Linked DNA regions of Homo sapiens: region 1 is linked to region 2. Evidence: fine-mapped expression QTL. A gene starts in region 2. The other region holds a variant in brackets. All regions are shown on one strand. Distances are between the middles of the regions. Region 1 has its middle 20 kb from the start of CHST12. Region 2 holds the start of EIF3B (eukaryotic translation initiation factor 3 subunit B).

What was found. PIP is the estimated chance that this variant, and not a neighbour inherited with it, causes the effect.
Region 1: its variant is fine-mapped to the expression of EIF3B in spleen (GTEx, PIP 0.91).

What each region holds. Positions count from the first base shown.
Region 1 is chr7:2,380,983-2,386,490 of GRCh38, reverse strand. It overlaps the pseudogene KIF19BP. Among named protein-coding and RNA genes, the nearest start is that of CHST12, 20 kb to the left of the region's middle. The variant G/A (reference allele first, on the strand shown) is at 2,323.
Region 2 is chr7:2,352,670-2,357,669 of GRCh38, reverse strand. It overlaps EIF3B (eukaryotic translation initiation factor 3 subunit B), which reads right to left and starts at 2,843. Exons shown (of 19, transcript NM_001037283.2): 1 at 2,250-2,843. The coding sequence starts at 2,748. It also overlaps a transcript of SNX8 not described here. RefSeq lists silencers at 2,387-2,496, 2,547-2,636, 2,817-2,956 and enhancers at 3,757-3,826, 3,497-4,052.

The sequences.
Region 1 (5,508 bases), 29 kb before region 2:
TGAGCCTCCCAAGTAGCTGGGACTACAGGCGTGCACCACCACACCTGGCTAATTTTGTATTTTTAGTAGAGACGAGGTTTCTCCATGTTGGTCAGGCTGGTCTCGAACTCCTAACCCCAGTGACTCACCAGCCTCAGCCTCCCAAAGTGCTCGGATTACAGGTGTGAGTCACTGCACCTGGCCAACTTCCATTCTTTTTATCCATGATGCAGGTGCATCATGCAAAGGATAAGGACCTCTGCAAAGATCCTATGAAGCCACCGTCCTCTCCCACCCTACTTGTCCCCACTCTCTCAGCTGATTCCTTGGGTCTCGACCCCCTCTGCCATGTCCTTTCCTGCAGAGCCTGTCTCCCCTCGAATTAAACGCCTGTCTGGTTTTTTCGTTTGCTTTTCCGTGAACTCAGCACTGATTCACCTGCCCCCTCTGCAGTCCACTCCCCCTGGGGATGTCTGTGCACCTGATCTTCTGTCCATTTCATCTTCTTTTTTTTTGTTGTTCTTTTTTTTTTTTTTTTTTTTGAGACGGAGTCTCGCTCTGTCACCCAGGCTGGAGTGCAGCGGCGCAATCTCGGCTCACTGCAAGCTCCATCTCCCGGGTTCATGCCATTCTCCTGCCTCAGCCTCCTGAGTAGCTGAGACTACAGGCACCTGCCACCATGCCCACCCAATCTTTTTTATTTTTAGTAGAGACGGGGTTTCACCGTGTTAGCCAGGATGGTCTCGATCTCCTGACCTCGTGATCCACCCACCTCAGCCTCCCAAAGTGCTGGGATTACAGGCATGAGCCACCGCGCCTGGTCCATTTCATCTTCTTTTTTTTTTTTATTTTATTTTATTTTTTTTTTTGAGACGGAGTCTCGCTGTCGCCCAGGCTGGAGTGCAGTGGCGCAATCTCGGCTCACTGCAGGCTCCGCCCCCTGGGGTTCACGCCATTCTCCTGCCTCAGCCTCCCGAGTAGCTGGGACTACAGGCGCCCGCCACCTCGCCCGGCTAATTTTTTGTATTTTTAGTAGAGACGGGGTTTCACCGTGTTAGCCAGGATGGTCTCGATCTCCTGACCTCGTGATCCGCCCGCCTCGGCCTCCCAAAGTGCTGGGATTACAGGCGTGAGCCACCGCGCCCGGCCGTCCATTTCATCTTCTTGCAGACGATGCCCTGAGCCTCCTGACCTGGGACCAGGACTGGTGCCCCCCTGCCCAGCGGGGAGCTCCCTCTGACACACCCAGGGTCCCCTGCCCCTGAGTGCACATGACTCCCAGGGGCCATGTCTCCTTCCTTATGAAGCTGCCTCTCTAATGACGAACGGGAAAACCTGATCCACTTGGCGACACTGAGTTCCACCCCACACTGGGCATTTCTTCTTATGAGTGACCACCGAGGCCATAGACATCCCTAACCTGTGGCAACAGCTTGGCTTCTGAGCCTGCTTCAAAGTGGCAGAGATCCCCGTGCTGGACAGCATGCTGGCGCCCTTCCCTGCTGAGCTGCAGCCACCCAGGCCCTTTCCAGCCACACAATTTCAGAGCCAGGCCTGCTGAAGGCTCTGCCCTCCTCCCAGCCCCCTCCCTGCTCTGTGGCCCTGCCACATGCTCCTGCTGGGGGGCTCCAGCCTGCTCCCCTGCCCTGACTTTGCCCACCCCCACGGGCTCTGCTGTATTCTCCTGGTGGCACTCATCTCTCCCTTTGTGTGCCCCGAACCCTGACTAGAAACTGGGCCCAGTGGGGTGGGCATGGTGTCAGTCTTAGCCACACCTCCAGGACAGAGCCCCATCTGTGAGCTTGTGACAGCAGGGAGCCCCCTGAGCCCCAGCCTCACCTGGTCCCCCACTTTGTGGGCGATGACCGCGGCTCCCTCCTTCAGTTCTGCGTCATTGAGCGGGTGGATTCGAAGTGCCACCTGCAGGCAGTCACCAGGGCGGCTGCTCTGGGATCTGCTCAGTCTCTGTGAAGAGGTGAAGGCAGCAGCTCAGCCCCGTGCCCCTCAGGGTGGGCTCTGACTTCACTCCCACGGGGCTGCCCGTGCCCCCAACAAGACATGGCCTCCCTCACTGAGGAGATGGGGAGGTTGAGGCACACAGCAGGGAGCGCCTGCCCAAGGCCTTGCCTCCCAGTCCTGCCACCTCCAGAAGAGATGCTGAGCTCCTTCATGGGAAACTTCCCCAAGGGGAAACTGGGGGCCTTGCCATCCCCACTCCCTATTCTGAGGGCCAGATCCCGGCCTCAAACCCACCCAGCTGGATAGTAACTGTGGCCCCAGGACGCTTGTTTCCCCCTCTATAAAAGGGACACATTTTTTGGTAGAAACAGCAGCTGTGGCTGA[G/A]GGACAGTCATGACTGGCATCTCTTTTTACCCAGCTACAGCCCTGGGGCAAGTCCCCAGCTCAGCTCACCGCTGTCCAGTTGGCGGAGGCTCTGAGTCCCCCAGCAGATGGCCTGGATTGGGCCCAGGGAGGGGGCTGGGGAGCCCAGAGCCCGCACACCCAGGTGCCAGCAGCATGGGGATTAGGGGTGGAGAGGGTGTCTGGAGGCTCAAGGCGGGGGTGCGGAGGCAGTGGGGAAGAGCGGGGCAGCTAGCTCCCAGCGAGGGAAAGTTGGGGAGTAGACCGGGCTGATAACAGAGCAGAGGGGTCGCCGGGGTTGCAGGCTTGGGAGGCGGCGTCGGGCACTCGCAGACTGGGGGGGCGGGAACACGAGGGAGGGCGCTCACCATTAGTGGCTGGTCTTTGGGCTCCATCTCTCAACGCCGGGCTGCCCCGGGCCGGGGAGGGACCTGCAGCCTGGCAGGAGGGTATGGGCAGCGGGATGCGCTCCCTATCACAGCAGAGATGAGACCTGCCTGCGCTCAGCCCCGCTCTGCTCTGCCTAGGTGACATCAGCTGGGCCTTGGGGAGCCGGGCTGGCACCACTCATGTGGTTGGGGCCTCAAGGAGCAGGGTGGCCCTCTCGATCACCTTGGCACACAGGGACAGCGCCAGACGCTACAGCAGCCTCTATCTCCACCCTCACTATGGCAACCCCCGGTTTCCATGTGCCTCACCCGGTGCACATGAGCCAGCCTGACACCCACCAGGACACAGGTGGAGGGGCTGCCCCTCTTCTTTGCAGGGTGGGTCCCTCTACCACCTTGAGCCCAGGAGAGGCGCTGCCCACCTCAGGGCCCCTCACACAGAAACCAGGATGGCCCTGGAGCTTTTCCCTTGAAGCAGACAAATGGCAGCAGCTGAAACTTCACACAGCAACTTGAGCAACTTCGACTGCAACTGCCGTTTCCAACGGCGACTATGTTTCTTTTTTTTTTTCTTGTCACCCAGGCCGGAGTGCAGTGGTACAATCTTGGCTCACTGCAACCTCTGCTTCCTGGGTTCAAGCAATTCTCCTGCCTCAGCCTCCCGAGTAGCTGGGATTACAGGCACCTGCCACAATTTTGTGGCTCATTTTTGTATTTTTAGTAGAGATGGGGTTTCACCATGTTGGCCAGGCTGGTCTCGAACTCCTGACCTCAGGTGATCTGCCCGCCTTGGCCTCCCAAAGTGCTGGGATTACAGGCGTGAGCCACCCGCGCCCGGCCCGCGACCACGTCTCCTCCCCTTTCCCAGTAAGCGCTTGATTGGCTCTCAGGTGTATTCAACACCTAAAGGCTGTGCTCCTTTTCCACTGCAAGCCCGGGGAAAGGCACCGCACCGTGAACCTGCTCCCCAAGGTCACCTGACCCGTCCAGGCTGAGCTAACCAGAGTGCAGGACGACACTGCCCAGAGCCAGGGTCGGTGCCAAGCACAGAAACCCGCTCCTGCACTGACAGAGATCACGCCAAAGCCAGGCCGGGCGTGGCACACGCCTGTAATCCCAGCTACTCGGGAGGCTGAGGCAGAATTGCTTGAACCCGGGAGGTGGAGGTTGCAGTGAGCCGAGATCACGCCATTGCACTCCAGCCTGGGCAACAGAGCAAGACCTTGTCTTGACAGAAAAAAAAAAAAAAAAAAAAAGTAAAGAAATCACATTAAAATCGGATCCAAGCTGTTCAAGCCTGGCCAAGTCCAACTTCATGATGCCAACCACGGAGCTGAAAGGGCCCGGGGGTCCATTCCCGCCAGAGTGGGCGACTCAAGCCCTCCCAAGAGCCACCATGCCTTTCCCATAAGCCGACTGCCTGGCAGCTCAGCTGTGCAAGGCCAGGGCATGTTTTTGGCCACATCCATCTCTTTCTTGGCATCCGGGTCAACACTGTGCAGCAGGAAACCCCAGCCAGGTGGATTCGGCTACCCCTCCAACAACCACATCCCTGTCCTCTAGGAGGATGAGGCTCCAGCGTCTGACCACGGCACTTGCCGGGAACACGTTTACAAGTCCCCGCGTTCTTGCCTGCCTCAGCCTCCTGAAACACAACCAAGGCCATGCCTGCAGCAGGGGTCCCAAACACCCCCCCCCCCCGATGTCCTGAGCCCGCCAGCCGTGGGGACCCTGATACCCAGGAAGTCCCTCCACAGCAGGCCGGCTCTGGGAGATCCATGTCTACCGTAGCAAAGTTAAAACCAACGCAAGGGCTTCAGAAATCCTTTACGAATTATATGAAACAATGACAACTAGTACATTTAAAACAGTGGAAAGTTAATTTTTTTTAGAATATCTGTTAAAAATCTGTCATATGGTAGAACTGTGTGCCTTTCTTCTTTCGATGAAATCAGAAAAACTTTCTCGGCACACTAGAATTTAAGCAGCAAGAGTATAAACAAGAATTACTAATAAAATGTGCACTGGAGGGACACAGGATGAACGGCAGGACTGCGACAATTCTAGAACTGTAGAATCGCAGATGAGAGAAATGTAGGGCTCCCAAAAAAGCAAACGCACCAAGGCGCCCTCCTCACACCTGGGAGACCCAGTGTGACCTGAGGCTCTAGGCCACTCCTCCAGGGTGGCAGGAGCCCGGGTCCTCTGCCCTGTGAATTACAGCCCCTCCCAGTCTCCAAACGTTGCCTTAGGTTTGTAAATGGCCCTTGGCTGTGAGTTCTGAGGGCTGCCTCAGGTTTGAGGAGTTGAAAAGAGGTGGATGAAACTGCAGGGTCACAGGTGCCAGTGGGAAGTGACACCCTGTCAACAGGAGGGGCTGAAATTACCCCAATTTGTGGGCTCCCTTCCCAACAGGAAACAAGTTCAGAACTGGCCGGGCACGGTGGCTCACTCCTGTAATTCCAGCACTGTGGAAGGCCAAGGCGGGTAAACCACATCAGGAGTTTGAGATCAGGCTGGCCAACATGGTGAAACTCTGTCTCTACTAAAAGTACAAAAAATTAGCTGGGCGTGGTGGCACATGCGTCGTCCTAGCTACTCAGGAGGCTGAGGCAGGAGCATCGCTTGAACCCGGGAGGCGGAGGTTGCAGTGAGCCAAGATTGCGCCACTGTACTCCAACCCGAGTGATAGTGCGAGACTCCATCTCAAAATGAAAAAACGGGCAGAACTGACCATTCTCAATACAAGTTTCCCAATGTGTCTAACTCCAAGGAAAAG
Region 2 (5,000 bases):
TTCTCAACACTAAATAGCAAATAGAAAGAGAAAGAATAGTTAATGAGCCAAAAAAGACATTTAGAGTTAAAATCCTGGATCAGCTGAAACATTAAACTGAAAGGATGATTACAGTTTGAGAAGCTAATCTGTACCAAAAAAGTAATAAAGCAAGACAGGGACTCCAGGCCACCTCTGGCCTGCTCCTTGGAAGACTTGGCCCTTCTGGAAAGAACTGATACAGTCACCTACGGTCTTGCACAATGACCCTGAAGGGCAGCTCTTCTCATAAAGCACAAAACCTGCGTTACCACAACCAGGAGGGCCATGACAAAGTCGGCTTCCTGAGCCTTAGTCCTCAGGACCAGATGCCTCACCTGTCACTCTGGCCAACACTGCACCTTCAGGGCCACGTGGGCCCGCTGAGGACCCACAGCCGTCACCCAGCCTGGCCAACCCTGTCGTCATATTAGCATCCTCTGACTCTTCCCAATTCCAGAAGTAATCTACGTATTAGAAATCTGTGAATTCGATGGGCTCAAATAATGCTTTTTAAAAAAGTAGCAGAATATCCAAGGGCTCAAAATAATCATTAAACCAAAAGTTTTGATTTTTAAACCATAATAACAATTGAAGCGTTAGAAAGAACACTGTTCTGAGCAGGAGAGTCTGGTGGGCCAAGCAGTATAGACCCACTGGGAATTCTCAGCAGCCTACTCCACCTTCAGGGACAAGTTTCCTCAGGACTGAGGGGCGTAGACTAGATGTTCCCAAAGTCTTTAGTTTGTGGTGTCCTTCCTGCTTTTCATGCTAAAATGTCTTTTATGAAAAAAAAAAGTGTAATATAGTAATGGTCACAGTAACTGACAGCGTTTTTATTTTTTAATTTTTCACTTTTTGAGACAGGGTCTCACTCTGTCGCCCAGGCAGTGGTGGGATCTAGGCTCACTGCAACCTCCACCTCCTGGGTTAAAGTGATTCTCGTGCCTCAGCCTCCCAAGTACCTGAGACTACAGGTGTGCACCAGCACACCTGGCTGACTTGTATTTCTGATAACCTTTTTTTCTTTTTCTTTTTTTTTTTTTTTTGAGACGGAGTCTTGCTCTGTCGCCCAGGATGGAGTGCAGTGGCAGGATCTCGGCTCACTGCAAGCTCCGCCTCCCAGGTTCACACCATTCTCCTGCCTCAGCCTCCAGAGTAGCTGGGAAATCCAGGTGCCCGCCACCACGCCCGGCTAATTTTTTTTTATTTTTAGTAGAGACGGGGTTTCACCGTGTTAGCCAGGATGGTGACCTCGTGATCCACCCGTCTCGGCCTCCCAAAGTGCTGGGATTACAGGCGTGAGCCACCCAGCCCGGCCCTCTGATAGCCTTTTAAAAATACGTTTAAATCATAAATTGGCAACTCCATGTTATTCCCGAAATTGTCCTGGTGTATCGCTGGCTACATCAGCAAGGGTATTTTTATTTTTCTCACTCTAGTATCAACTTAGCCAATCTGCAGAGGCTGATGTGTTCCCAACTTAAAGGCTTAAGAGAGCTAAAAAACAAAAGAAAAACAAATGAGACCAGCTCTCATCAGAAGTAGCTTCAGGAAAAAATCTCTGAGACAGGAAGCAAAAATATGCCTGTAAATCCAATCAAGGTTGAGATGAAGGCAAAGCTGGCTGTTATCGGCAATATTAAAACCTGGAAAAATAACTCTCTTTATAGATTTAGCGCAAGAGATAAAGAAAAATCAAACTGGAATTTCACAGGGTGCCTGTCCCACTAAGGAAGTCTCTGGAGATGGACAATTCTGAGGGGCAGGAGGACAAAATCACCGGCTCTGCCACAAGCTGTTCCTCCGATCCAGACCTTGGGAGGTCTGACTGGTCAGCTCTGGGGACACGTAGACCCGCAAACCTGCCACCGGGTCTTCGGTTTTTGCCGTACCCCCAGCTGCTACACTCACAGCACACCCAGCCATAACGGAGTACCCCATGTGCCCTCTCCCACCCTCTCAGATTTCTGGTTGTCATGCAAATGCCTGGCTCCCGAAGTGAGCTCCACCCTGTCCCCTTTTTCAGGAAAGAAAAGGGGAGGCGCTGGGCTCTCAGAACACTTCCAGGGCACTCGGGAACCCCTCCCTCGGTGGCTTCTCAGGAACACACGGACACCCTCGCTGGAACTTCTGCACGAACCGGTGGCACAGCCCGACGATATCTCCCACCTCGGGAACCCCAGCCACGCTCCCGCGCCGCTCGCCAGCCCCGCCCCGGGCGCCCTCACCTTCCTCGCTCACGTCGTCCACGAAGTCCTCGGGGTCGCTGAAGGAGGGCTCGTCCGCGTCGCCGTTCTCCAGCGCCCGGGGTTCGGCCTCGGCCGCTCTGCCCTCGTTTCCTCCCGCGTCCTCGGACACCGCCTGGGCCCGGCTGTCGGAGCGCTCGTCCCGAGCCTGCTCTCCTGGGGCCTCGCCCTGTGCCGGGACAGGGGGCTCAGCATGCGACCCGGGCAGCTCCTCGGCGGCCGGCGGCGAGGGCGACTCGGACGGGCCGGAGGCCGCCTCTGCCTCGGCCGCCGGCTCGGTCCTCACCTCGGACTCCGGCCCGGCCTCCGCGATCCCCACCTCCTCACTGGAGGCCTCGGTCCCCGCGGCCTCCGGAGCGCCGGGCCCCGCGGGCCGCAGCAGCCCCTCGGCTGGCGGCGGCTCGGCGGCCGGCTGCTGCTGGCCGGGCTCGGCGCGCTCCTCGGCCGCCTCGGGCACCGCCACGTTCTCCGCGTCCTGCATGGGCCCAACGCTGCCTACTCGCAGGGCTCCGCGGCCGCCGCGCTTCCGACTCTCCCAGGCCGCACCGCGCGCCGCGACGGCTACAGCCCAGCCATGTGCGTGCGACGGGGAGGCCGCACCAAGGCCGCGGGGCGGGGGGCGCACCCACGCCCTGGGGCCTCACGAACGACCCTGAGAGGACTCGCATCCACAAGACCGCGCCCGAAAATCATCAAACTGATATATTTGTGACAAGAAAGTGCTTAATTCCATTCAGCAAGGTTGTTTCTGTGCATCAGTAAACTCATGGGAGCATTGACCACCCCATGTGTGGCAGCAGATGGTTCCGTCCAACATGGCGTCCTCCCCCTTTCCTTTCCCGTCGGACGCTGCGGGGCGGGACTGAACTATTTGTGGAGCTGAAGGCGGGGACAAGAAATGATTTTAGTACCCGGAATGCTAGGAAAATGTCCTCTAACTCAACAGTTAATACCCTGGAAGAGTGGAGACTCAACAGGCGATTGCTCAGGGCGTCTGAGCCTTTCGCTAGGGAAACCGTTTAGTTTACGTTACTAAAGTCCCCCCTGTCCGTGTCTGTCACTTGGACTCGCCTACTGACTGAGCAAAAGGACAGACTACTTCAAAATAGAAAAGGAATTCGGGGCGAGCCAGAGAGGGCCCACACGACTAGAAGGACGACTGCCTGGCGCGATACAAAAATGTATGGAAGTTTCTTTAATCGCTTACCCCCAGTCCTTCCCTAGCGGCCGTCACTGCCTGTTTCCCCCCATTCGGGCTTTCACAGTGGTTCAGTCCATCCGAGGCCGCCGCCTTCAGCGCGGGACAGCGCGGGTCACGTGGGGGCGGGGGCGGGTCCTCGCCGCGTGGAGCTCGAGGCTGACTCCGGAGGGACCGGAGCGGTTCGCTCTGCGCGGGTGCTCACGGGACGGGCATTGGGTGCATGTGGCTTCTATCTTGTTTTTTGCCGGAGTGGAGGACAACCACTGGTTGGGGGATGTCTTAATCATCCTAGAAAACAACCCAGTGGATCACGCCTGTTATCCCAGCACTTTGGGAGGCTGAGGTGGGAAGATCGCTTGAGCTTAGGAGTTGGAGACCAGCCTTGCCAACATAGCACCACCACCCCCCGCACGCCAGCCCTCATCTCTACGAAAATTAAATAAATAAATAAAACAGGTGGTACCCAGAGGCTGGGGTGGAGAGTGGGGAGTGTTTATCGGGGACGGACCTTCAATTTGGGAGGATGAGAACGTTTTGGAGATGACGGTGGTGATGGTACAACATGGTGAATGTACTTGATGCCACTGAACTGTATACTAAACTTCATATTAAAATGGCTAGGCCCTGCGCGGTGGCTCACACCTCTCTTCCCAGTACTTTGGGAGGCCAAGACAGGAGGATCACTTGAGCCCAAGAGTTCAAGACCAGTCAGGGCAACATAGCGAGACCCTGTCTTCGAAAAAATAAAATAAAATGCCAAAAAGGTAAATTTTATGTATATTTCATCCTATAGTTTTTTTGTTTTGTTTGTTTTCAGAGATAGGGTCTCGCTCTGTTGCCCAGGCTAGAGTGCGGTGGCATAATCACAGCGCCGCTGCAATCGGGACCTTCCAGCCTCAAGAGAATCCTCCCACCTCAGCCTCCCAAAGTGCCAGGATTACAAGCGTGAACCACCGCGCAGGGCCTAGCCATTTTAATATGCAATTTAGTGTACAGTTCAGTGACATTAAGTACATTGCCAAGTACTTGGGACTGAAGGTATGTGCCACCGTGCCCAGCTAATTTCTTTATTTGTAGATAGCATCTCACTGTGTTGCCCAGGCTGGTCTCAAACTCCTGGCCTCAAGCAGTCTTCCTCCCTCAGCTTCCCAAAGTGCCGGGACTATAGGCATGAGCCACCACACCCATCCCATCCTAACGGTGTTTAAAAGAGCGAAAAAGAAGCAGAGTCTTCCCATGCCTAGTACCAGGTTTGACTACTCCTCATCATGCTGTCAGTGGTGTATCTTTGGGCAGGTCACTTAATGCCTCCACCTCAGTTTCCGCATCTGTACAATAAGGGATGACAATTTTTTTTTTTTTTATTTAGACGGAGTGTTGCTCTGTCGCCTAGGCTGGAGTGCAGTGGCACGATCTCGGCTCACTGCAAGCTCCACCTCCCGGGTTCACGCCATTCTCTTGCCTCAGCCTCCCAAGTAGCTGGGAATACAGGTGCCCGCCACCACGCCTGGCTGATTTTTTTTGTATTTTTT